7 linked regions of the Homo sapiens genome follow. The protein of the gene in region 7 purifies or fractionates together with the protein of the main gene of each other region. This does not show direct contact. Each region holds a gene or a part of one and is shown on either strand. Other genes may lie near its edges. The genes, in order: ATP6V1D, GOLPH3L, KIF3A, CEP57, EXOC1, TRAIP and TNFRSF8.

What was found.
Region 1: the proteins of TNFRSF8 (region 7) and ATP6V1D purify together in Homo sapiens (affinity purification with mass spectrometry; 2 studies listed by BioGRID and IntAct, with this or other methods). This does not show direct contact.
Region 2: the proteins of TNFRSF8 (region 7) and GOLPH3L purify together in Homo sapiens (affinity purification with mass spectrometry; 2 studies listed by BioGRID and IntAct, with this or other methods). This does not show direct contact.
Region 3: the proteins of TNFRSF8 (region 7) and KIF3A purify together in Homo sapiens (affinity purification with mass spectrometry; 2 studies listed by BioGRID and IntAct, with this or other methods). This does not show direct contact.
Region 4: the proteins of TNFRSF8 (region 7) and CEP57 purify together in Homo sapiens (affinity purification with mass spectrometry; 2 studies listed by BioGRID and IntAct, with this or other methods). This does not show direct contact.
Region 5: the proteins of TNFRSF8 (region 7) and EXOC1 purify together in Homo sapiens (affinity purification with mass spectrometry; 2 studies listed by BioGRID and IntAct, with this or other methods). This does not show direct contact.
Region 6: the proteins of TNFRSF8 (region 7) and TRAIP purify together in Homo sapiens (affinity purification with western blotting, with the first as the bait; one study listed by BioGRID). This does not show direct contact.

Annotation. Positions count from the first base shown.
Region 1 is NC_000014.9:67,342,805-67,346,304, forward strand, and holds part of ATP6V1D (V-type proton ATPase subunit D), read right to left. Parts: intron 3,068-3,500; coding exon 2,964-3,067; intron 635-2,963; coding exon 568-634; intron 1-567. UniProt on the Homo sapiens protein: Subunit of the V1 complex of vacuolar(H+)-ATPase (V-ATPase), a multisubunit enzyme composed of a peripheral complex (V1) that hydrolyzes ATP and a membrane integral complex (V0) that translocates protons.
Region 2 is NC_000001.11:150,662,655-150,666,154, forward strand, and holds part of GOLPH3L (Golgi phosphoprotein 3-like), read right to left. Parts: intron 1,110-3,500; coding exon 978-1,109; intron 1-977. UniProt on the Homo sapiens protein: Phosphatidylinositol-4-phosphate-binding protein that may antagonize the action of GOLPH3 which is required for the process of vesicle budding at the Golgi and anterograde transport to the plasma membrane.
Region 3 is NC_000005.10:132,696,047-132,699,546, forward strand, and holds part of KIF3A (kinesin-like protein KIF3A), read right to left. Parts: intron 3,250-3,500; coding exon 3,125-3,249; intron 637-3,124; coding exon 588-636; 3' UTR 1-587. UniProt on the Homo sapiens protein: Microtubule-based anterograde translocator for membranous organelles. Plus end-directed microtubule sliding activity in vitro. Plays a role in primary cilia formation. Plays a role in centriole cohesion and subdistal appendage organization and function.
Region 4 is NC_000011.10:95,821,498-95,824,997, reverse strand, and holds part of CEP57 (centrosomal protein of 57 kDa), read right to left. Parts: intron 3,128-3,500; coding exon 3,020-3,127; intron 3,014-3,019; exon of another isoform or gene 2,664-3,013; coding exon of another isoform or gene 2,607-2,663; intron 2,500-2,606; coding exon 2,422-2,499; intron 1-2,421. UniProt on the Homo sapiens protein: Centrosomal protein which may be required for microtubule attachment to centrosomes. May act by forming ring-like structures around microtubules. Mediates nuclear translocation and mitogenic activity of the internalized growth factor FGF2, but that of FGF1.
Region 5 is NC_000004.12:55,898,648-55,902,116, reverse strand, and holds part of EXOC1 (exocyst complex component 1), read right to left. Parts: intron 2,433-3,469; coding exon 2,233-2,432; intron 1,283-2,232; exon of another isoform or gene 963-1,282; intron 1-962.
Region 6 is NC_000003.12:49,830,333-49,832,564, forward strand, and holds part of TRAIP (E3 ubiquitin-protein ligase TRAIP), read right to left. Parts: intron 1,737-2,232; coding exon 1,584-1,736; intron 1-1,583. UniProt on the Homo sapiens protein: E3 ubiquitin ligase required to protect genome stability in response to replication stress.
Region 7 is NC_000001.11:12,139,803-12,143,302, reverse strand, and holds part of TNFRSF8 (tumor necrosis factor receptor superfamily member 8 isoform 1 precursor), read right to left. Parts: intron 1,017-3,500; coding exon 772-1,016; 3' UTR 1-771. UniProt on the Homo sapiens protein: Receptor for TNFSF8/CD30L. May play a role in the regulation of cellular growth and transformation of activated lymphoblasts. Regulates gene expression through activation of NF-kappa-B.

The sequences.
Region 1 (3,500 bases), on a different chromosome or scaffold from region 7:
TTACTTCAAATTTTGCTTTCTTACCTAAAATTGAGTGTTTCTTTAATAAAAACTAAGTTTATTGAGCAAAAAGTACCATCAACACTAAGCAGTCATATTTTTTAAATAGTGAAATAAAAGAGATGGAAAATAAGTGCATCAAATGGGAAATTTTTTAGAAATCAAGGAGAATGGCTTATACTGATTTAAAGTTAAATATTTAATGTACTCAAAAAGTTGCATCACTCAACCATTAGAAAGAACTACAGAAAACACTAAGGATCTTGAGAAATATTCCTACCCTTAAATAACTGCATGAATAACTGGAAATGAAGAAAACATTCCATAATTTTTAAGTCACCACTTTCCTATGTGTGTAACTCCCCCAGATCATACAAGTACTTCTATCAGAACACTTCATAACACTTTTTTTTTTTACTATGGACACACTTCTCTCTTTGCACTGTGGGCAAGGGAAGCATCTTATTCATCTTTCAGTCTTCAGTACAGTCCCTGAATTCTAGCAGTTTCACGACAAGTGGAGGGTATGGACAAGTGACAAAGCACCTCACAGTACCTAATACTCACCATGTTCAATGGCATTTACACGCCTGTTGGTTATCTTAATAGCTTCATCCAAAGTAACAAAAGAAGTCTAAAATAAGAACAAATTAATAATGTAAGCACAAAGTCTTCCTAATCATTCCCTGATCACTTGACTCCACTAAGACTGCACTTGTAGAAAACATTTGAGAACCAAGACAACTTCTTTTTGGCATGCTTAAAAAACAAAATTCTTAGGCTGGGCGCATGGCTCACGCCTATAACCCCAATACTTTGGGAGGCTGAGGTGGGAGAATCACTTGAAGTTGGGAGTTCAAGACCAGCCTGGGCAACACAATGAGACCTTGCCTCTACAAGAAATAAATTTTAAAAATTAGCTGGGTGTAGTAGCATGCACCTGTAGTCCCAGCTGCTTGGTAATCTGTGATGGGAGGATCGTTTGAGGCTGCAGTGAGCTATTACTGTGCCACTGTACTCCAGCTTGGGTGACAGAGTAAGACCCTGTCTCTTCATAACAAAACAAAAACAAAATTCTTGTGAGATTTCCATAGGGCTAACACTATTTCCATGCTATTGATAACCTACATGTCACATTTGGTAGGTTTCCAAATTAACCTGCCTGGGCAGATTGAGGGATCTTATGATTCATGGTTTACATCCTGTCCCTGAGTAAGGAAATCTTAAGTTTCTCAGACTGCTGACATACTGATTAATATGCAACCTACTGACGCTGAAAATGACACTGATTTGTTTCTGATTCATGAAGTTTTACTTCATGATTTACTTGCATGTAGAACATTTTAGCTTGTATTTGTAATCTGTAGCCAATGATTGTGACCTCTGTATTGTACTCGCCAATGAAAAGGACAACTTGGGTATGAGGAGTCCTCCCTTCTCCTAAACTTTCCCATAAAAGCCTTCCAACTTGTAGCAGACTCTAGAACACACCCAACTTTGTTGGTGTCTTCCCGGGTCAATCCTCACATTTGGCTTTCAATAAACCTTTATCAAATCATTTCTGCTTCAACAGGCTTTACTTGAGTTGACACTATTATAATTTGTTTACTATAGTCTCACCTAAATAACAACATAAAAATGACAAGAAAGAATCAAGCATTAATAACCTAGATATATACTAACTGGCCACATAGGGGAAAAAATGGTCTTCCATGCACAAACGATGTTTATTTACATTTACATTTAAATCTAGTATCAACTTGCTATTCTTACTTAGCAAAGAGTGAAACTGGGCTGGGTGAGGTGGCTCACACTTATAATTCCAGCACTTTGGGAGGCTGAGATGGCAGGATTTCTTGAGGCCAGGAGTTTGAGACCAGCCTGGGCAACGTAGCAAGACCTCATCTCAACTAAAAAATTCAAAAATATTATCCAGGCGAGGTGGCACAAACTTGTAGTCCAAGCTACTTGGGAGGCTGAGGCGGGAGACTGCTTGAGCCCAGGAGATCCAGGCTGCAGTTAGCCAAGATCGCAACACTGCACTCCAGCCTGGGCAACAGAGCAAGATTCTGTCTCAAAGAAAAAAACAAACAAACAAACAAAAAAAACAAGAGTGTACCATAGCACATACATTTTGTTAACAAGAAGAAGCAGGGGCCGGGTGTGGTGGCTCATACCTATAATCCCAGCACTTTGGAAGGATGAGGCGGGCTGATTACTTGAGCCCAGGAGTTCGAGACCAGCCTGGACGACATGGTGAAACCCCACCTCTACAAAAAATACAAAAATTAGCTAGGTGTGATGGGGCATGCCTATAGTCCCAGCTACTCAGGAGGCTGAGGTGGGCGGATCACTTAAGCCCAGGAGGTTAAGGTTGCAGTGAGCTGGGATTATGCCACTGCACTCCAGCCTGGGTGACACAGTGAGACCCCATTTCGAAAAATAAATAAATTTTTAAATTAAAAGTAGGGGCCAGGTGCAGTGGCTCATGCCTGTAATCCTAGCACTTTGGGAGGCCGAGGCGGGTGGATCACCTGAAGTCAGGAGTTCGAGACCAGCCTGACAAACATGGCAAAACCCTGTCTCTACAAAAAATACAAAAGTTAGCCAGGCATGGTGGCACATGTCTGTAATCAGCTACTTGGGAGGCTGAGGCAGAAGAATCACTTGAACCCAGGAGGCAGAGGTTGCAGTGAGCCGAGGTCGCGCCATTGCACTCCAGCCTGGGCAACAAGAGTAAAACTCCATCTCAAAAAAATAAAAAATACATAAATTTTAAAAAGTAGGGACAATGGTACAAAAGCCATCACTTCAGAAATCAAAATATTATGTTTGCTTTACATAGGATCATGGGAACAGTTAAAAGTACAAAGCACAGTATATGCTGACTCAAGACCTGACTCTCCTCCACTTGACTGTTACAAATCAAACTACAGGAGTTCTCCAGGTCTTTTGCTACTTACCTGCAGAGAAGCTAGTTCCACCAGTAGTTCCACTGCTTTGGCATAATTCCTCTTTAATTTAGCCAACTGTTCCCCACCTCTGGCTAAACCAGTCAGTTCATAACCTGAAAGGACCAGTCAGACAACATTTTTAATTAGAGTAAAATATCTTCCCTATAAAATTCCCCAAAAGGAGATAATTCAGAATAATAACAAATATGGAAAGATGAATTCACTAATCTTCATTGAATGTAAACATGAAGTGCCTATCTCACTCCCCAAACACTATAGGAGCATGCTACTAAATACAGTTTCCCACAAGAATACTATTCTAAATATAACTACAAAGGAAGCTTTTAACCAACCTTCACTTCACTAGCTTGATGCCCCTTATTCCCTTTGAAAATCATACTGCCTGATGCCCAGAGTACGATGACACTCTGTGAACAGGTGACTCTCTCTAGAATGCTCTACTTCTTCGTATGAAATGTACTTAATATTCTATATGATTTAATTAAATATCACATGAAGCAAGGAAATACAAGTGCCAAAAGAAAG
Region 2 (3,500 bases), about 140 Mb from region 7:
ACTTGGATGTTAAGAAATGGAGAAGTAAGGAAACAGTGTATAGTCAGAGAAGCAAGAGAATAAGATAATAACAAAGGCCAATAATGAAGAAAGTTTCAAAGTGATAAAAAGTGTCAAATGACACATATAGGTTAAAAGAGAAAAATAAATCAAAGACTGAAAAGAAGCTGGTGATACCTAAGAATGTAGTTTAAGTGGAGTGCTTAGGATGATAAAGAAGTTGTGAGTGGAAAAATTCAGTAAGAAAATGGATACAGGAGTATGGTTGGAAAGGACTTGCAGTAAATGGAAGGAAACAGAATATTATTGGAGAATAACCAGGGTTAATCAATGACTGACCTGACCCATATGAGTCCCTCTCCCTACATCATACTCTATTTCGTAATTTTTTTTTTTTAGAGACGGAGTCTTGCACTGTCCCCCAGGCTGGAGTGCAGTGGCGGGATCTTGGCTCACTGCAAGCTCCACCTTCCGGGTTCACGCCATTCTCCTGCTTCAGCCTCCCGAGTAGCTGTGACTACAGGCGCCCGCCACAATGCCCCGCTAATTTTTTTTTTAAATATTTCTCGTAGAGATGGGATTTCACCGTGTTAGCCAGGATGGTCTCAATCGCCTGACCTCATGATCCGCCCGCCTCGGCCTCTCAAAGTGCTGGGATTACAAGCGTGAGCCACTGTGCCCGGCTATTTCATAATGTTATAGCTATAGATATAGGAGGAATTTAATCAACAGCATCCTGAGTATGATTTTTCTGCATAAAAAAGGAAGACAAAACCAGGAGCTTCCTATAACTCTTTGGACTATGGATACTTTGATTTCTCCCTCTTGCAATAGGGTAATTAACCTGTTTAGACAATGGAACTGCTGAGTCAGTGATATTTATTTTATCTTACTACTCAAATCTTTCTATTCTTCCCAAATGTACTGTTGGTATTTGCCTTTCCATAAGCCATGGACGTTCACAGAGGATTCAGTACCTTTCTGTCTAGTAGTCGCTTCTTACGCATGGTCGGGGGTTCCAGATAGATTCGACCCCGCATGGCCAGCTCTATCAGGATGCCCCCTCGCAGGCCTGATGATATGCAGTCATTCCAGAAAGATGTGTACCCCTAGGAAAGGAGAAAAGAGAAGAGAAAGAATGTTTTGAGAGGAATACTGACTTCCAGCAGGCACCCTAAGAACAGGCCGCTTTGTTGTGATTCGTTTCACATCATACTACATGAACTCAAAGTATAGAGTAAGAGGATGTTTCTTTAATCCTCTTAAACACCCCCAAATATGATTTTCTGTCTGACTTCAAGATCTTTAGTGAATTTCCATGGTTTGCTGTTAGTCAATAAATGATGTGCAATTTTTTTTTTTGAGACAGGGTCTCGCTTTTTCCCCCAGGCTGAAATGCAGTGGCATGATCATGGCTCACTGCAGCCTTGACCTCCTGGGCTCAAGCAATCCTTCCACCTCAGCCTCCTGAGTAGCTGGGACTACAGGTATGTGCCACCATGCCTGGCTGTTTTTAAAAAAAATTTTTTTGTAGAGACAAGGTCTTGCTATGTTGCCTACGCTGGTCTCGAACTCCTGGCCTCAAGCTATCCTCCCACCTTGGCCTCCGAAAGTGTTGGGATTACAGACATGAGTGACTGCACCTGGTTTGACATGCAAAATTTTAATTTTTGAGGAGAATTTTGGCTTTTTTGAAGTCTGTTTCCATGACACAAAATTTCAGAGTGGGGTAAAATAAGTCAGAAAAAAGTAAAAAGCATTTGAGCTTTTAATCCTCCTAGATATGTATTAATTTGAAGTTCTTTTTTCTTTTTTTTGAGATGGAGGCTTGCTCTGTCGCCCAGGCTGGAGTGCAGTGACGTGATCTTGGCTCACTGCAACCTCCGCCTCCCAGGTTCAAGCGATTCTCCTGCCTCAGCCTCCTGAGTAGCTGGGATTACAGGTGTGCACTGCCACACCCAGCTAATTTTTGTATTTTTAGTAGAGACGGGATTTCACTATGTTGGTCAAGCTGGTCTCAAACTCCTGACCTCGTCATCCACCAGCCTCAGTCTCCCAAAGTGCTGGGAATACAGGAGTGAGCCACCGTGCCCAGCCAATTTGAAGTTCTTTTGATGGGAGGTATAATAGAAACCCACTGTCATTAAGTGCCTTGGTTATGTTACTTAAACTTTCTGAAGTACATTGTCCTCATCTATAAAATGCAGACACCAATATATATTTTCATAAGATTGTTATGAGGGTTACATGAGATACAATATATAAGAAAGCATTTAGTATAGTGCCTGGCATATAGCAGGCACTTAAAATGTTAGCTCCCCTTCCCTTTGTATAGGGAATATACGTATAAGAGAGCCACTGGTATTGTCTAACAGCAGTAACGTTTAATTACTAATGTCTATTGAATACTTATTATATACTAGATATGTGCTAATACTTATTATGTACTAGATTTGTGCTAAGCTTTTTACATGCATTATCTGATTATATCTTCACAACAACCCTATAAAGGAAGTACTACTACTACCCACACATTAAAGATGAGAAAACTAAGGCTTACAGAGGTTATACAGCATAACAGAGGTCACGAAGCTAAATAGAGAAATTTTTAAGTGGTTGTTTTTTTGGTGGTGTTTTACTGATAGATCATAGTTGTGCATATTTTGGGGTTACTTTTTTTTTTTAAGAGACAGGCGGGGTCTTGCTCCATTATCCAGGCTGAAATGCAGTGGGGCCATCATAGCTCACTGTAGACTTGAACTCCAGGGCTCAAACAATTGTCCTGCCTCAGCCTCCCAAGTAGCTCAGACTACAGGCATGAGACACTGCACCTAGCTATAATAACTATTTAAAAAATTTTTTAATTCAATTTTCCTCTTTATTGGCTTGGAAGTTATGTACTTTTAGAAGTTATCCTTGAAATTTTAACATGCATGATACATTAATTTAAAATTAACATAAAACCTAAATTTTAAATATTAATATTTTAACCACTCTTTTAGTTGTCCAGTATTTTTTTTTAGCCTCATAAATTAGATATCATCATCATCATTATTATTTTATACAGGTAGCACTTGTTTAGATTTACACAGGTGCTTACGAATTTCTTTGCTCACCGTTCCTTCCTGTATCTCAGACTTCCTTTCTGGCACCATTTTTCTTCTTCCTAAAGTAGAATTTCCTTAAGTGAAAGTCTGTTGGAGGCAGTTTCTATTTTGCTTATCTGAAATGTCTTTGTATTTCACCATCATCCTTGAAAGATAGTTTCTCTGGACATAAAATTCCAGGTTGATCATTCCAGGTTATCACATTGAAGATAGTATGCCCTCTTCTTCCAGCTTCTAATATAGCAGTGAGAAATCTATCTTTCTTATTGATTGTGGTTTTTTTGTAGGTGGTGTATCTTTTCTTTGGTCCTTTAAGATCTTCTCTTTTGGTGTTTTGCAGTTTTACTATAACATGACTGTGCATGAATTTATTTATTCTGTTTGGTATATGTT
Region 3 (3,500 bases), on a different chromosome or scaffold from region 7:
AAGACTGTTAAATTATAACATTTTCTACAAAACATTCATAAGATCAGTCATCTCATACTTAAAATGCAACAAATGTTAGACAATTAGAATGTGTTCAAACAGGCTGGGTGGGTGTTAGGACGGAATCATTCTTTAGATGTACAGTCCAAACATTCATATATAACAGCGCAACATAGGACAATCTGATCTGCTTCTTTCTATGTGCAAAACAGGACACAGTTTTTTTTTTTCTATTTTGAAATTCTAGTTACCTAAATATACAGTAGTTGGATAAATAGCTAATCGATTTACACATACATCTAAACTGTAACTCTCTATAGTATGAACTGTTCCCCCAACTTCCCTGCACAGTACAATTGAAGAGTAGTAGTACAACAATTTGAACAATCACCAGTTGTACAATTTTAATGTTATATTAATATATGTAGACTAAAAGTTCTTAAGCAAATTATTATTTCCAGTCTTATTCATTGATCTACAACTTCCATTAATTGAAATTATAGAGAAGTCTTCACTGTTTTAATTAAAGATTTTGTCCAGGCATGAGAATATCACTAATTTTTATTGTGACTTTAAGTCTGTAACATTTACTGCAGTAAAGAGTCAATTACAGTTTCAGGCTTTGCAGAACGCTTTCTGTTTGGAGAAGAAAAAAAGCAATCATGAATGCTTTCCTAAAAGACTGAAATGCAAACATTTAACATTATATAGAAACTATGGGGTGGCCTGTATAGTCTGGAAACAAGCCAAAATTTGACACGTTTGACCATGGTAAGTGTTCAATTAATGCTCGCCTTTTCAGGCTACGGGAAGCTAACTTAAAGTAAATGCAAGAGGATGGCAGCCCACCCCATTATGCCAGATAGTGAAGGATAGGACAGGTGATAATTTCCAAGACTAGACTAGGTCATGTGGCCAGGCCAAGTGAGCTGCATGCTTGCCAGATTTGAACTTCCTGATTATCTCTTCTGAGGTACTCAAAAGGTGCAAGTGGATTCAGAGGAAATCAGAAACAAATCATCTCAGGCAATACCTGATGCATATGTAGGGACTTATGGAAATGCTACATTAATGTATTATATTTATTGCAATTTTGCCTAGCCCATCTAACTATGTGTTTCTAACAAGGAACATCACATTGAACATATCATATAATGTAACATAGCATCAATAAACCATTTAATGCATGTATTTGTCCATGTTTATGGCTACCATTTTCTTAGGGTTTCCATGGTTATAGCAGGCCAATTCCAGTATACAGAGATGGTGAGTTTGGCTCATATAATGTTGGGCCACACGATTTTTTTAATGTTAAACTAAAAAAATGACGTATCTTAAAATGGATGTTCTGGAAAACGTATTCAAATATCATATTATTTATTCATTTGCTTTAGGGTCCATATAGTTAAAAAAAAAAAAAGTAAAATTGACAGATCTCAAGTAAATAATTCGAATTTCTGGCTTTTCCTTAGAAAAGAGAAGATCCAGGCCAGGCACGGTGGCTCATGCCTGTAATCATAACACTCTGGGAGGCTGAGGTGGGCAGATCACCTGAAGTCAGGGGTTCGAGACCAGCCTGGCCAACAGGGCAAAACCCCATCTCTAGTAAAAATACTAAAATTAACTGGGCATGGTGGCAGGTGCCAGTAATCCCAGCTACTCAGGGCACTCCAGCCTGGGCAACAGAGTGAGACTCCATCTCAAAAAAAAGAAAAGAAAAGAAAACAGAAGATCCAGAAACAATGAGCCCTCTATTTCCATAGATAACTAGGAAGAGAATAGCAGCCACTCACTTTAGACAGGACTGCTCACCACTGCCAATTTTTCTCCTACGCTGGGGACAAATGTCTTACCATTTATCATCACACTTGCACTGTCATTTTATTAAAAATGGAAAAAAAGATACATCTAAAGGGACTCATGTTTCTTAGAACTGATTTGCTTCACTACAATATGCTTGGCATGTGTTGGTATAGGAAAGTTTTTAACCCCTCACCTAAATGCTAAAGAATGTAAAAATTTGTACATTTTTAATATTCAACTGTTTGCCCAACCCTGAGTTCAACCATCCCAAATTTATAAGTGTTAAGTCATGTCTATGAGATTATGTAACACAAAGATATCAAAACCGTACAACTTCATCCCACATGTAACTTGAAAGTCCATGCACTCAAAGTAGGGAAAAAAGCAGCTTATTATTTCCTACATTTTAGGAGCCCCAGAGTCTTAAAATCAGCTTAAATAAACTGAACAGTCCTTGATGTAGGAAAGGGAAAGGAAAAAAAAATAAGCTCCAGCCCAGGACTCCCATATCCCGATTTCCCTGAGCTTATGTGATGATACACGCAGACTACCCAACAGTCAAAACCAGTGCCCAAAGGAGAGGGGGAAATGTCCAAGGAAGTTCTCCTTAGCTGGTGACTGAGGAAATCAAGGTTCTTGGGGCACCTGACAGAAAAACTAACCAGCTGAATACAATACCTTGGGAGACCAAACAGGCAAATTAATTAGCATTTCATAAGAAGAATTAGTCTAAGAATTAAGGAATTAAACCCATTATACATTTGGAAATAACAGAGTGAATTAAAAATAAATTCTATTACTCAGAAGCCTAAGAAGTTGGAAGACCTTAATTCTTTGGCCAGATTTTATTTACTCAAATTCTAATACATAAGGAATTTGATTTTTTTTTTTTTTTTTTGAGACCAAGTCTTGCTCTGTCACCCAGGCTGAAGTTCAGTGGCATGATCTCATGATCTCGGCTAACTGCAACCTCCGGCTCCTGGGTTCAAGCGATTCTCATGCCTCAGCCTCCCCAGTAGCTGGGATTACAGGCATGCGCCACCATGCCTGGTTAACTTTTGTATTTTTAGTAGAGACAGCGTTTCACTATGTTAGCCAGGCTGGTCTCAAACTCCTGACCTCAAATGATCCACCTGCCTCGGCCTCCCAAAATGCTGGGATTACAGGCGTGAGCCACTGTGCCCAGCCAGGAATTTGATTTTTAATAAATCAGCCAAAATATGTATCATGTTTTAACTAAATAAATTTTAACTTCCTGTACATGTATCTAATTAGAATACCTCAATGCCTTCGTTTTACCAGATTCAAGGACAGTCCTTACCTTCTCCCTGTCTTTGGCCTTGCTTTCCCCTTTGAAGTTCGTGGTCTTTCTAGTTTCATCAAAGACTGACGCAGACTCTCCTCAGTATAGGCAAGATACACGTGAGAAAGGTCCACCTCAAAGGGCTAAGTAAAAGAAACAAACACAAAGCACTCTTAAGGCAAAGAGTTAAAGCCAGATTTGGGGGAAGATTTAAAATACTGAATAAACTCCTTGATCAAACCCACAGAAGCTAAAACCAAAGAAATGTCTAATGACATCATCTTCTAATCCCAGTATCTAAAATGTACTTAATAAAGGTTGGTGAGTAAGAAGCCCTGACACACTATAAATTTCCTTGGACATAAAAACTGTTGCTGTTTTTCTTAAAGCTGCC
Region 4 (3,500 bases), on a different chromosome or scaffold from region 7:
AAAAGACTTTAAAAGGCAGTCTCTTACTGGCAAATTACTTCCTGACTTCAGGGACAAAGGATTGATGGATCAATGTTTTTTCTAAATCCAGTTTAGAAAAAGGGTTCTCAAAGGGTCATTCTTGTTGTAAACCCAAAGACTGGCAGTTGGGTATATTTCCCCTTGAAGGCTCAGGGATTAGCAGCTTTATAGATAAGGGCAGTCCTGATTGTAAATCGGATTGTGTTTTCACAAAATAGTAGATTTAGCCCGTCTCCTCTTTCCTTAAATCCTGGTGCTGACTTGTCCTCCTTACTTATAAATATCCTTCGTGGCATCATGTTTTTCCAGAATAGGGTACTTCTGTCTGCATTAAAAGCCTGTTCAGGAAGATACCCTTTCTCCTCAATGATTTTCTTAATGGTATCTTGGGATTCATCTGCTGCCTCTTGGTCAGCAGAAGCTGCTTCTCCTATCTTGACATTTTTAAAGCCAAACCTCTAAAATTATCAAGCCATCCTTTGCTGGAATTAAATTCTCCAGCTTTAGATACCTCACCTTCCTTTTAAGTTGTCATATAATGACTTTCCTTTTTCTCAAATCATATTAGAGTCTACAAGTATGCCTTTCTTATAGCAATCCTGCATCCACATAAAAGCTGCATTTTCAATGAGATAAAAAGCTATTTTGCAAAAAGCACAAGGTTTTGGCACCTGCTAGAGTAGCTGCAGTGACAGATTCACAATTTCCTTTTTTTTTTAAAAAAAATTTTTTAAAGAGGATCTTACTCTGTTGCCTATGCTGGAGTACAGTGGTGCCATCATCGCTTACTACAGTCTCGAACTCCTGGGCTACAGTGATCCTCTTCTGTCAGCCTCCTGAGTAGCTGGGACCACAGGTGCACGCCAACATGCCGGGATCATTTTTTTTTTTTTTTTTTTTTTTACAATAGGCCTTCAGCTGGATTCATTTATTTTGAAATGGTGGACAACCGCAGCTGCAGACCTCAATCTATGGTACATATCAAGCAATGCAACTTTTTCTTGTCATGTCATGACTTTTGTCTGCTTCTTGGGAGCACTTCCACCATCATTAGTAGCACTTGATATGGGTCCCATGATATTATTCAAATTATTTACTGTATTGTGCTAAACATGATGGAAAATATGGAACTGCTAGAGAACACTTTTTACTGTGATACACAATTGACTGGAGAGATGAACTGCTCATTTGAAGATGATTAGCGTCACGTGGCATTTTAAGTGAATACTCCCAACCCTTGAGCTCATCACAATGGCAACAGAAGGTGGCTACAAAATTATCAGTCGTACAGTATGTACTACAGTTAATTTTATACAGTTATGATTTCATACTGCATCTTTATCTCTGTTTACATTTCTCTGGACTGTGAATGGCGTCACGTAGTCTGTGTGCAAATTGTTTTGATAAATTATAATTAAAAAAAACTTGTGTATATTTTATGGTAGTAAATGATAAAATGCACTAGTATTGACATAGTCAATTTTATGCATCTATGACATACCAACTTTTTCTTAACTTCTGATATTTCTAAGCTATAGTTTGCAAGTTTTTTCAAATTGCCAAAAATCTCCAAAAAATTTTCCAAGATACTTATTGAAAAAAAAAATCTGCCTGTAAGTAGACCCACACAGAGTTCGGACTCATGTTGTTCAAGGGTCAACTGTACCTTTTTCAAATGCTTGTCACCACTAATTTATTATATTCCCCATGATTTCACTGCGAATTTACTAGGGGTTTAAAATAAATAAATATAAACAAATACAAAATTCAGAAGAACATTTACTTCCCAAGATGCCAGAATAACAATCTAGTTGGAATCTAAATATAAAACCACCAGCAACACAAACAGCTTATAAAGTAGTGTCAACTAGCACAGTTTTAGGCACTTCACTCAGTACTTGATATATGACAATACAGCTTTACATTCAAGTGCTGAAGAAACTGAAGATTCAAGTGTACGTATGACTGCTTCTTGGAGAATTAGTCCTAGAAATGATCTGGATGTGAGGACAAGCAGAATGTGCTACGTGCTTATTCGAATATCTACCTATATCTAAATGTAACTCAACAGGATTGATACTAAAAATCCAATGCTACAAACATACTATTTCTTATTTCCTTGACCCCTATCTGAAACAACACCTTCTTCAACTTAGGGTCTCTGTTTTATCACTTCCTTTCCACATATACTTTATCTACTTTAAGGTATCCTCCCCATCTCTTCCTTGCTTCCCTAATCCCCAAAAACCTCCCTACATCTCATTTTCACATCACTGTGATCCACACACTGGTAAAGGCACAGAAAAATGTTCCTTCCATTTGTAGACATACTTGCAGATGCAGGGACTTAATTCAGGGATCAATGTTGTATAAAAAGAATCCGGAGTTTGACCAACTCACCTTCCCAGCTACAAATGGCATATCACCCAAGCATAATCTATAATGTGGTTGTGCACCAAAATAGTTCCTAGAACTTTTCTGAATGAAAAGAAAAGGAAAACAATTTTATTTTATTCACATGATAATAAAAACTGACTATACATGACTAACTTGAAACTTCAGTTAACTACTAGGCTACTACTTGCCTTATCTATAGTTGGCATTATGATCACAAGCCAGCTCCTAATAGTACTTGTTAGCATATATCCTAGCCTAGGAAAGGCTGGGGGGAAAAAAGCACTTGACAAAACAACAGTTACATTCTAAGTAGAAAATCAGTATACATATACACAAAACATTGTAAGAGCACAAGATAATGCAGTACTAATAATGCTAATTTTGTATGGTGTTCTGTAGTTCCAAAATGCTTATATATTTTCTCACTATCAGGATAAAAATTTAGGAGTAGGTATTACTTATCTCCACCTTCTGAATGAAGAAATTGAGAATGAAAGATTTACTCTCTCAAGGTTGTAGTACACCACACAGTTTATGGGTGTTTTGACATAAACTATACCAAGTAATCAGCATTTTGCCTGATTTGGTTCTGTCTTCACACCTTTTCTGGTGGTTTTGACTTCTTTTTTTTAATTCTTCTTGCATTGGGAACACACGGAGTTGCCTTATCTTCAAAGATAAGTCTATTTGTTTCTAGACCAGTCTGCAACTAGGAAAAATGAGAGCCTCAAGTTAATGCTGTAGAAATAAAAGCTATGACTCAGATTTCAGATGTGTCATGTAAAAAGCCTGTAAAAACCAATGGTAGTATCTAACTGAAAAACATATTACAGCTGTATAACTATGTCTTGAACCAATCTATCAACGTTTGTCAAATATTTTAAATAAATACCAGTCTCTCATTTTATCTTGACCTTCTGTTATAATTTGTCCCTTCTTCAGCGTGGAACACATTATCTCCAGTATTTGTAGTTACTCCATAAATTCTATCTAACGAGTTAAATGCAATGTATCTAACCCCAAACCATTGCTTAAATATATTCTTTTCAAAAATGGCATCTACTACATTACCAGACACAAAA
Region 5 (3,469 bases), on a different chromosome or scaffold from region 7:
TTTCATGTCCCACTTTACATTTAATATTGTTTTTTCCTAAATATAAATTTTAATGGCTGCATAATATTTCACACAATGACTGAACCACAATTATTATTCATTCCTCTAGTACTAGATATTTAACATCCCACTCCCCCTTCTTTTTTTGGACTTGGCAAATCTAGTGAGACTTTAGAAAATCTACTATAAATATATTTGTCATAAATTTTTTTTGTATATAAGTATTTACCCATCTTACTGATTAAATTTCCAGGACTATAATTACTCTGTTGAAGAGCATAACTTTAAGTATTTGAAAGATTCTTCAGTATATATACAAACTGCTTCCTAGGAAAGCTCAACCAATTTATATTTCTGTCAACAGTGTATGAGGTTGCTACTTCACTATACCATCATAAGCATTATGACAATTTATAACAATAGTTGCCAGAGTAAAAAAAGTTTGTCATTTTATTTTATAATTCTTTGGCTATAAATAAGGTTAACCTGCTTTTATATGTTTAGTAGTGATTCAGCCCCTTGCCCCATTTATAAATTGGGGTCTTAGTGCTTTTCTTATTGATTTTAGTAAGATTTTTTATATTAAATATACTGACTCTGTTATATTATTGTAACTATTATTCCCAGGTCTTCTTTTATATATATACTTTTATTGACTGGCATAACTGTATTTGAGCACGATACAAAGAATTAATGCTGACAAACCCCATTCCCTCTCATTACTTTTTTCTAAAATTTTCTTAGTGATTATTCATTAAATTATCATTCTTTGAGAAGTTATTCTTAGTGCTTTAAAAATTTTGTTTTTACATAAGCTCTTAATTGGTAGACAGGAAATACATTGTTTTTCAGTATATTTGCTTTAAATTTTGTCACTTGACCAACACCAGTAATTTCAACATATCATATACAGGTGGTGATAATCTCGTCTCTGTTTTCCATATCTCTTATTTATGTTTCAGGTCTTGTTGAACTGGCTAGTGCTTCAACAACAATGCTAAATAATAAAGGATCTAACAATATTTCTGCTTTAAATTGATTTCAGAGGGAATGTCTCTAACGTTGCAGTTAAGTATCATGTAAGCTTTAGGCCTGAGATAGATCTTTTATCCAGTTAAAGGAATATTTGTCTGTTCTTAAGTTTTATAAGGAATTAGTTCTGCATTTGATTAAATGTCTTTCAAGTATTTCTTTGAATTGTTGACAGCAGATACATATTCTTTTTTTTTGTTTTGTTTTGAGACTGAGTCTTGCTCTGTCGCCCAGGCTGGAGCGCAGTGGTGTGATCTCCACTCATTGCAACCACCACCTCCTAGGATCAAGTGATTCTCCTGCCTCAGCCTCCCAAGTAGCTAGGACTACAGGAGCGTGCCACCACGCCCAGTTAATTTTTTTTTACATTTTTAGTAAAGACGGGGTTTCACCTTGTTAGCTAGGATGGTCTCGATCTTCTGACCTCGTGATCCGCCTGCCTTGGCCTCCCAAAGTGCTGGGATTACAGGTGTGAGTCACCGCGCTATTTTACTCTAACTTCAAGTTAAGAGCTTATAAAAGATAACTATATTGCAGACAAAGTTAGTTTAAAAGGTTCATTTAAGCTTTCACTATCTTGTAAAGTTCCCTAAAATCATCATTTCTTAACTTTAATTAACAGACTTACTCTGGGAAATGACTCAAGTAAGGAAAAAAAAAGAAGGGAAAGAAAAGTAAAAGGCAATGTAGAAAGCAATTTTTGGTTTTTCTTTTATCTTAATAATATTTTTGAAATTTCCACCTAGACATTGTAAACTTGGTCATTTATAAAGTAAGAAATGGGAAAGAGTAACGGCAAAGCCTAATCTAGGTTCATCCCCCAGCTTTGTAATTTATAAGCTATTATGATGTCGGGCAAGTTTTTTTACTTTCAGTTTCTTCATTTGTGAAATGGGGATAATATTATCTTAGCTTACACATCATTGTTTATAAGAATTAAAAGAAATAATGCATAATAGAATACTAGTACAATTATCATTAAAATATAGTAGATAAATAATGTATAAAAATAATGTACAGAAAGAAGAAATAAAATATATAGCATCTAGCAGTGTCTGGCACACTGGCAGCTTCAATAACTGAGTCCCCTGTGCACCAACACATGAGAAAATTTAAGATAAATGTCTGCAGGTTATTCATATGCAAACTTATGTGTATAGGTTCAAAAGTAGGAAAAATACTGAATGAAAATATATTTACATTTAGTTTTTCAAGAGGTTGTCCTAAAGAGTAAATGACATAAGACTGAAGGTGATCTGTGTATTTTTGTTTGGCTTCTTTTTTTTCTGCTTCTAGACATGAGATTTTCAATCGAGAAAGAGTTGCAAAAATATGGTGAAAGTTTTCCATCATAACCACATCCCTGGGGGTCTTCTGGCTTTCATTTGCTACTTTCTCCACTAAAACCAAAACAGAAAAAATAAAATAACATCTCTGAGTATGACCATATTTAGCTATAAACATTTATACTATTAATTTTTTTTCATTTGTAAGTTTAAGAATTAAGCACATTTCTGGACTTAATACAATATATTGTAATGGGAGTCTTCAGATCTACCTAATCATAATAAAAAGTCATCCTAAAACAGTCCCATGTGTATATGGAAATTCAGTATATAATAAAAGTAGCTTTTCAGATCAATGGAGAAATGATGAATTATTCAAAATGTGTTAGGACAACCGGCTGGACCATTTTAATATATGAAATTTAAGTTCCTACTTTACATCTTGCAGTCAAATTCTAAATTGCTAAATTATTTAAAATGTAAAAAGCAAACAAATAATACAATCATAAGTACTAAAGAAAATATAACTAATAGAAAAATAATAATTTTGCAATAGTGTGACCTTGCTAAGAATGGCCCAAAATTTAGAAGACTGTTAAGGGGAAAGATAAATAAATTGGAGATAAAATTTGAAAATTCATGTAAAGTAAAGACACCATATACAAAATCAATGAAATGCAAAATAAAATAGTGAGATAATTTATAGCCTATCAGGTTGACAAAGAATAAAAAGATTGGTAATACCTAGTAAAACCCAGCATTGGTACAGCTGTAATGCAACTGCTCATAGCACTAAACTGACATAAGCTTTCTGTATCACAATTTGGGAAAAGACTTGAGATACATAAATCCTTTGACCCAGTAATTCCATTTCTAGTAATTTACCCTAAAGAAATTATTTGACAAGTATACAAAGATAGATAAACTAAAAAAATCCTAAATGTTTATTAATAGAAGATTTGGTAAATGGATAATGACATATGGATGACTATGCAATCATTAAAAATGATTATGTTTATCTATATTAACTAACTAAGAAAGATACTAAGATTATATAGAGTCCAGCAGCTTCAAAAATAGTGTGTCAGGTATGACAACACTTTTATATTAAAGAAAGCACACATACAATATGCCCATATATAGAAGAGAGG
Region 6 (2,232 bases), on a different chromosome or scaffold from region 7:
TCCAACGCTCCTCAAGTCCTCGGGCACCTCACCATGTCCCAGGCTCTATATGGGGCTGAAGAGCCCAATCAACTCACCACCCACGGGAGGAAAGCCAGTCATGCCCTGATACGAGCAAAAGAAATTTAATGAGCTCAGGCCTAGTCCTGTCTTCCCAGAGAGGGGACACTACCTCCACGAGAGCCTCAGTAAGTTAGCCTTTCAGTAAAGTAGCCCACAAAATCCTCTCAGAACACAGGGCCAAGCCATCTCCCTAGAGAGTGTGTCTAAGAAGGGCCTGGGGCAGAATAGCGCATGGCCCCAGGCCCTGGTCTCCCAATCCCAGCCCCAGAGCCAGAAACTGTATTTCCATCCAATTCCTGGGGAACCCAGCAGCTGGATACCCTCTCCTGGCATTTTCCCTGGTGGGTGAGAAGATGGTGATCTAAGGCTGGCCCTGTGGCTTCTCAAGCCATAAGGACAAGAGTGGGATCAGGGCCTGATGACTGACTCCTCTGCTCCTGCCCTAACGGCCTGTGGTAAGGCTACATGACAACCAAGGCTCCAGGAAGGACGAGCTGAGTTAGGGACTCAGAACTTCACTACCTCCTTCACTACCTCCACAGGCCATGAAGGTGGTGGAAATGTCTCTGAAAGGCCTGGCAGCCTGAAGACCCCAGGTGTCCACCTTCAACCTTTACAGCGGAAGAAGGGCAATGGGAGGAAGCCAGAGTACACAGCAGACACTGACAGGATCCCTGAGGACTACAGCCCACGGGTCCTAGGTTTGTTTCTCATTGCTACCAGGCCTCGCCCTCTACAACAGGGGTGCCCATGCCCCCTGAGGTTTGGGAGGTAGGACAGCCCAGCTGGCTTGCCCTCTTGCTCCCTTCCACCTCCACTGTCTAGCATCTCAGTTTCTTTCTCTTTCTCTTCTTTCTCTCTGTACAAAGTCTTTGAAAAAGAGGAAACCTGCCCAGCCCTTGACCAGCCTCACCTGAACAGTACCTGTATGAATGAGTATAGTCCTTGTCTCCACAGTGAATTACACTTGGCAAAGCTGGCCAAGGAGACAGCCTCCCTTTTTCTGGTCCCACCGTACCCCAGAGCAGGTTCCACCTGCCCCACTGGAATTCCAGACAGCTTCTCATGCTTGCCCCTGTGGGTCACCCCCTTGGGTGGTAAGGCCTTGGGCTCTGTGGTTTGAGATGATCCTCCCTCAGGCATGAGCCTCAGAGGCAAACATAGAAGAGGAAGTTCAGAGTCCCTCGCTCAGGACTCTGGTGGGCAGGCCTTCAAGGTATTGGGAGCACCCTCTCCAGCCCAGACCCACCCCTTCTGGCATCACTGCATTCTCTCTAACTTGCATTCCAATACGTTTGCCTTGAAAGGTGATGGTGAGGAATAATGAGAAAAGAGAAGGGGTTTGCACAGATTGAGTGCTCAGGTGAGGGAACAAGAGGTAGCTGGAACCAAAGCCATGGCCAAGCCTAGGCAACCCTCACTGCCCCATCAGCCACTCAGAGCTAACAGCACAGGGCCTGCAGAGCTGTCTTAGCTATCCCCCTACCAGCCCATGGACAGTGCCAGCGACTATCACTCACTGTGACTTCTCTAGGCAAAGTTTTTCGTAGTAACCATGCTGGGAGCTGGAGGGCCGGGCTGGGGGAGTATCCACATCAAAGGTAGCATTGAGATCAATATCATCACGGAAGGATGGCCGGCGGAGCTTCAGATTCACCTCCACAGGGGCTGGGCTGAAGGCAGAGATGACCTGGTTACTTGGGGCCACAGTGGTAACCCAGGACAACAGCTCCTGAAGCATCAGAGATAACTCAGCTCCAGGGACCTGGAGCCCACTCCTGACTCAAGGCCACCCCTCAAGAGAGCCCTACTCTCGGCCAGGCACAGTGGCTCACGCCTGTAATCCCAGCACTTTGGGAGGCCAAGGCGGGTGGATCAAGCGGTCAAGAGATCAAGACCACCCGGGCTAACATGGTGAAACCCCATCCTACTAAAAATACAAAAATTAGCTGGGTGTGGTGGCTTGTGTCTGTAGTCCCAGCTACTCGGGAGGCTGAGGCAGGAGAATTGCTTGAACTCGGGAGGCAGAGCTTGCGGTGAGCCGAGATCGCGCCACTGCACTCCAGCCTGGGCGACAGAGCAAGACTCCGTCTCAGGAAAAAAAAAAAAAAAAGTTTAAATTTAATTTAATTTAAAAAGCACACAAAACTCCATGTATAGTGCAATTAC
Region 7 (3,500 bases):
CTGGGACCCGAGGCGCCTGCTGTGGCGGGGATTGGTGGGGACATTCTGAGATGAGTGACTTGATCCTGGGCCCTAGGCCCTGGGCCCACCGAGGGGGCTACAGGACAGGGAAGGTGGGCAGCACCAGGAGGGTCCCACAGTCCAGGCAGGGGCCCTCACACCAGTGCAGAGTACAGTGTGGCCGCTGCAGCAGAGACAGTGCCAGCTGACGACGCCCCATCCCTCGACTTCCCTTTTGACTCTGGAGAAACAACCACAGGCACTGGCTCCATGCCCACTGGGGGCCACATTTACAGTAACTGGGGGCATGCCGGAAGGGCCCAATGGGTGTCACCTCTGAGGTCCAGGGAGAGAGGAGAGTAGGGTTACAGGGGCCCCGGGAGCTGGCCTCACGACCTCTCCCTCGCTGGGCTGTGGGCCTGGTGGTTAAGGTCTGATGCCCAGGGCTCTGGGACCAATGCTGTTCTCGGCAGTGCCCATCCTGCCATCTGTTTGCTGCCTCAACCAACATCACTGCTGGGATCCAGTCCCCTTGGACTGTCTCTTCTGTACAAGCCCCGGATCCCCTAGGCTCTGGGTCAGGGGACAGCTAAGTTGGGGATGCAAGCAGAGACCACCAGACCCCTGCAGTGACCGGCCGGTCCACCACTAGATGCTGGAGCCTCAGTTCAGGCCAGATGGGCCTCTGCCCCCAACCTCGGTGCCAACAGTGCCATCCTGGCCTCCCAGAGGCCACCCTGCTGCCCTCCTAGCCCCAGCCCAGCCCAGGCCTCACTTTCCAGAGGCAGCTGTGGGCAAGGGGTCTTCTTTCCCTTCCTCTTCCACTGAGAGCATGACATCGCTGCAGCTGCCCAGAGGCGGTTCTGTCTCCTGCTCGGGGTAGTGGGGGGTATGGTCCGCCTCCAGCTCCTCCTCCAACTCGGGCTCTGCTGGCCCCGCCAGGCCCCGGCCCTCCGGCAGCTCAGCCTTCACGGTCCCCACGATCACGGTGTCAGCCTTCATGATGTAGATTTTCTCTGCAAGGCAAAAGGATGGGTGAGCGAGGGAGGCCAGAGCACCAGCCAGGATGGGAGCAAAGAGGCAGAGAAGGGCCGAGGCCCAGTGCTGGTACACCTGCCGGGTGGCTTCAGGCTGATGGCACAGCCTCTCTGATGTACCTTACAGGCATCCTGGGGGCTCAGAGGAAATAGAACAGCTAGGAGCTGGGCCTTGAGGAGTTAAGAACCAGCCCACTTGTACTTAGGATTTTCTCAGCACATCTCTGCGGATGGGTAGGGAAGAAGAGGACAGGGTGGGACAGAAAGCAAACTGTGGACAAAAACAGGCAAAGCCGTGGGTAACCAGAGCACGAGCAGAAACAGCAGAGCTGAGCAGTTTCCACACCCCCACTCCTGGGTCCCCAGCCCTCCTGCAAGGCGGACCCCATCAAGATTCCCATTTACAGGTAAGAATCTGAAGCCTGGAGAGGTTAAATGACCTGCCCAAGGTCGCCACGTAGTTAGGAGAAATCCCCCAAAAAAAAACCACCCACTCCGCCTGGTGGCCCTTTCTGCTCCTATCTGTGTGCCTGCAGCCAAAACCCGGGGTGACCAACTTGTCCAGCTTGCCCGGGAACATTCCTGGTTCTACTACTGCAAGTCCCGTGTCCTGGGAGTCCCCTCGGTCCGGGCAAACTCAGCCAGCCTGTCACATCCTGCAGAAAACCCGGCCCCCTCAATAGGTCTCGGCAGCCCATGATTGAGACAGCCTGGCTCAGGCCGTGAATTTCGGGGCTTACTGCTCACAGCCGGTCTCCTGCCTGCAGCGTGCATGGCTGTGCTGTGAGCACATGGTGGGAGCTTGGACGGAGGGCCGGTCCTCGCCACAGTCTGATGTGGGGGCTTCTGGTGTGGCCTTCTGATAGAGGGGACATGGGGGCTCAGGTTCAGTGGCCCGAGGAGCTGGGGAGTGGGGAAGCCTGGCCTCCGCCCAGCTGATGGTGTCTGGCTCAGGGTGGGCTGGCTCCCAGCTGTTCTGCGCTGGACTCTGGAGGCCAGAATGGGGAAGCTCAAGAGGGAACTTGAGAGCTGGGGTGGGGTGGGGGTGCAGGGACCCCTGCCTTTCTGGGTAATGCAGTTATACCCCTCGGATTCAGGAACCCCAAAAAGGTTCTCGAGTCCCCCACACCCTCAACCCTATTGCATGACGCTGGTTCTTCTATTCTGGTTTTGAACACCCCCAGGAAAGAGAGAAGTGCGCCAAACGGCAGCAAGAGGAGAAGGCCCAGAGTGCGGGACAGGCTATGGGCTGGGCGCCCCCACAGACCCCAAAACAGAGCAGGGCCTCAGCACTCCCCACACCTCCATCAGGCTTGTGGGCTCCCAGCCCTAGGAGCCCTATAGAGGGCTGGGCAAAAGATGGGGGCCGGGGGTGGTGAGAGAGGAGACCCCAGGAGGGGAGAGAAGGCCCAGAGGGGGATGGGCAGAGAAGATGAGAGGCGGGTGGGGTCAGGTGGGAGGGAAGTGAGGGTGGGGGTGCTGGATTAGGGAGAAGGAGCCACAGCTGGGGACAGGCTGGTCCCCTCACATTCCTCAGGGAAATGGGCAGGAGTCCCCAGGAAATCTGGAATTAACTGGATTCAAAGCGGTGGAATTGGCTGCTCTGGGTGAGGAAGCAGCTCCCACTGAGCTCGGAAGTGAAAGAGGGGTCTGGAAACTTCAGAGCCGGCCATGAGGGGTCTGCCCCGCTCTGGCTCTGCCCCCATCACAGGCTGCCTACTCCCCAGGCTGTGGGGGTGGCTTCCAAGGGCTGCATGGATTTCCTGCCCCCTCCCCAGAGCTCCAGAGTCCAGGGAATTCATCTTGGCTATGTGGGGAGGGCAGGTGAGGAAGTTGGGGGGAAAGGGGTTCTTCCCTTGCCTGGTTCCCAGGGGAAGAGGGACGATGTACAGACCCCAGTGTGACCCCTCTTGGGAACTGGATGGGAAGGGGGAACGCTACCCTGGGCTGGCATTAGGAGGACAAGGGGGTTGCCTGTGTCTTGGGTGCCCAAGAGAACCTCCAAGGCCTTCCCTTTCCACCATGGCGGAGGTGGCCCCCGATCCACTCACCAGCAAGGCCTGCAGGCCATGCCAGGGGAGGGCAGCCCACACCTGAGCCAGCTGCCTGGGAGCCTGGTACTTCCTTCTCCTCCCCATCAAACACCCTCTGAACCCCACCCCTGGGATTCCAGGCACTGTACTCAGTGTGGACTCAGAAGTTCCAGTTAGGACTTCTTAGGAATTCTGAAGAAGCCTTTGATGGTATTTCCCAAAATACATACTTTTCAAATAAAACTTACTAAAAGCTACCATTTCAAAAGCTTCAGTTTGTTACAAAAGACTGCCCAGGCTGGGCATGGTGGCTCATGCCTATAATCCCAGTACTTTGGGAGGCCAAGGCAGGCAGATCACCTTGAGGCCAGGAGTTCCAGACCAGCCTGGCCAACAGAGTGAAACCCCATCTCTACTAAAAATACAAAAA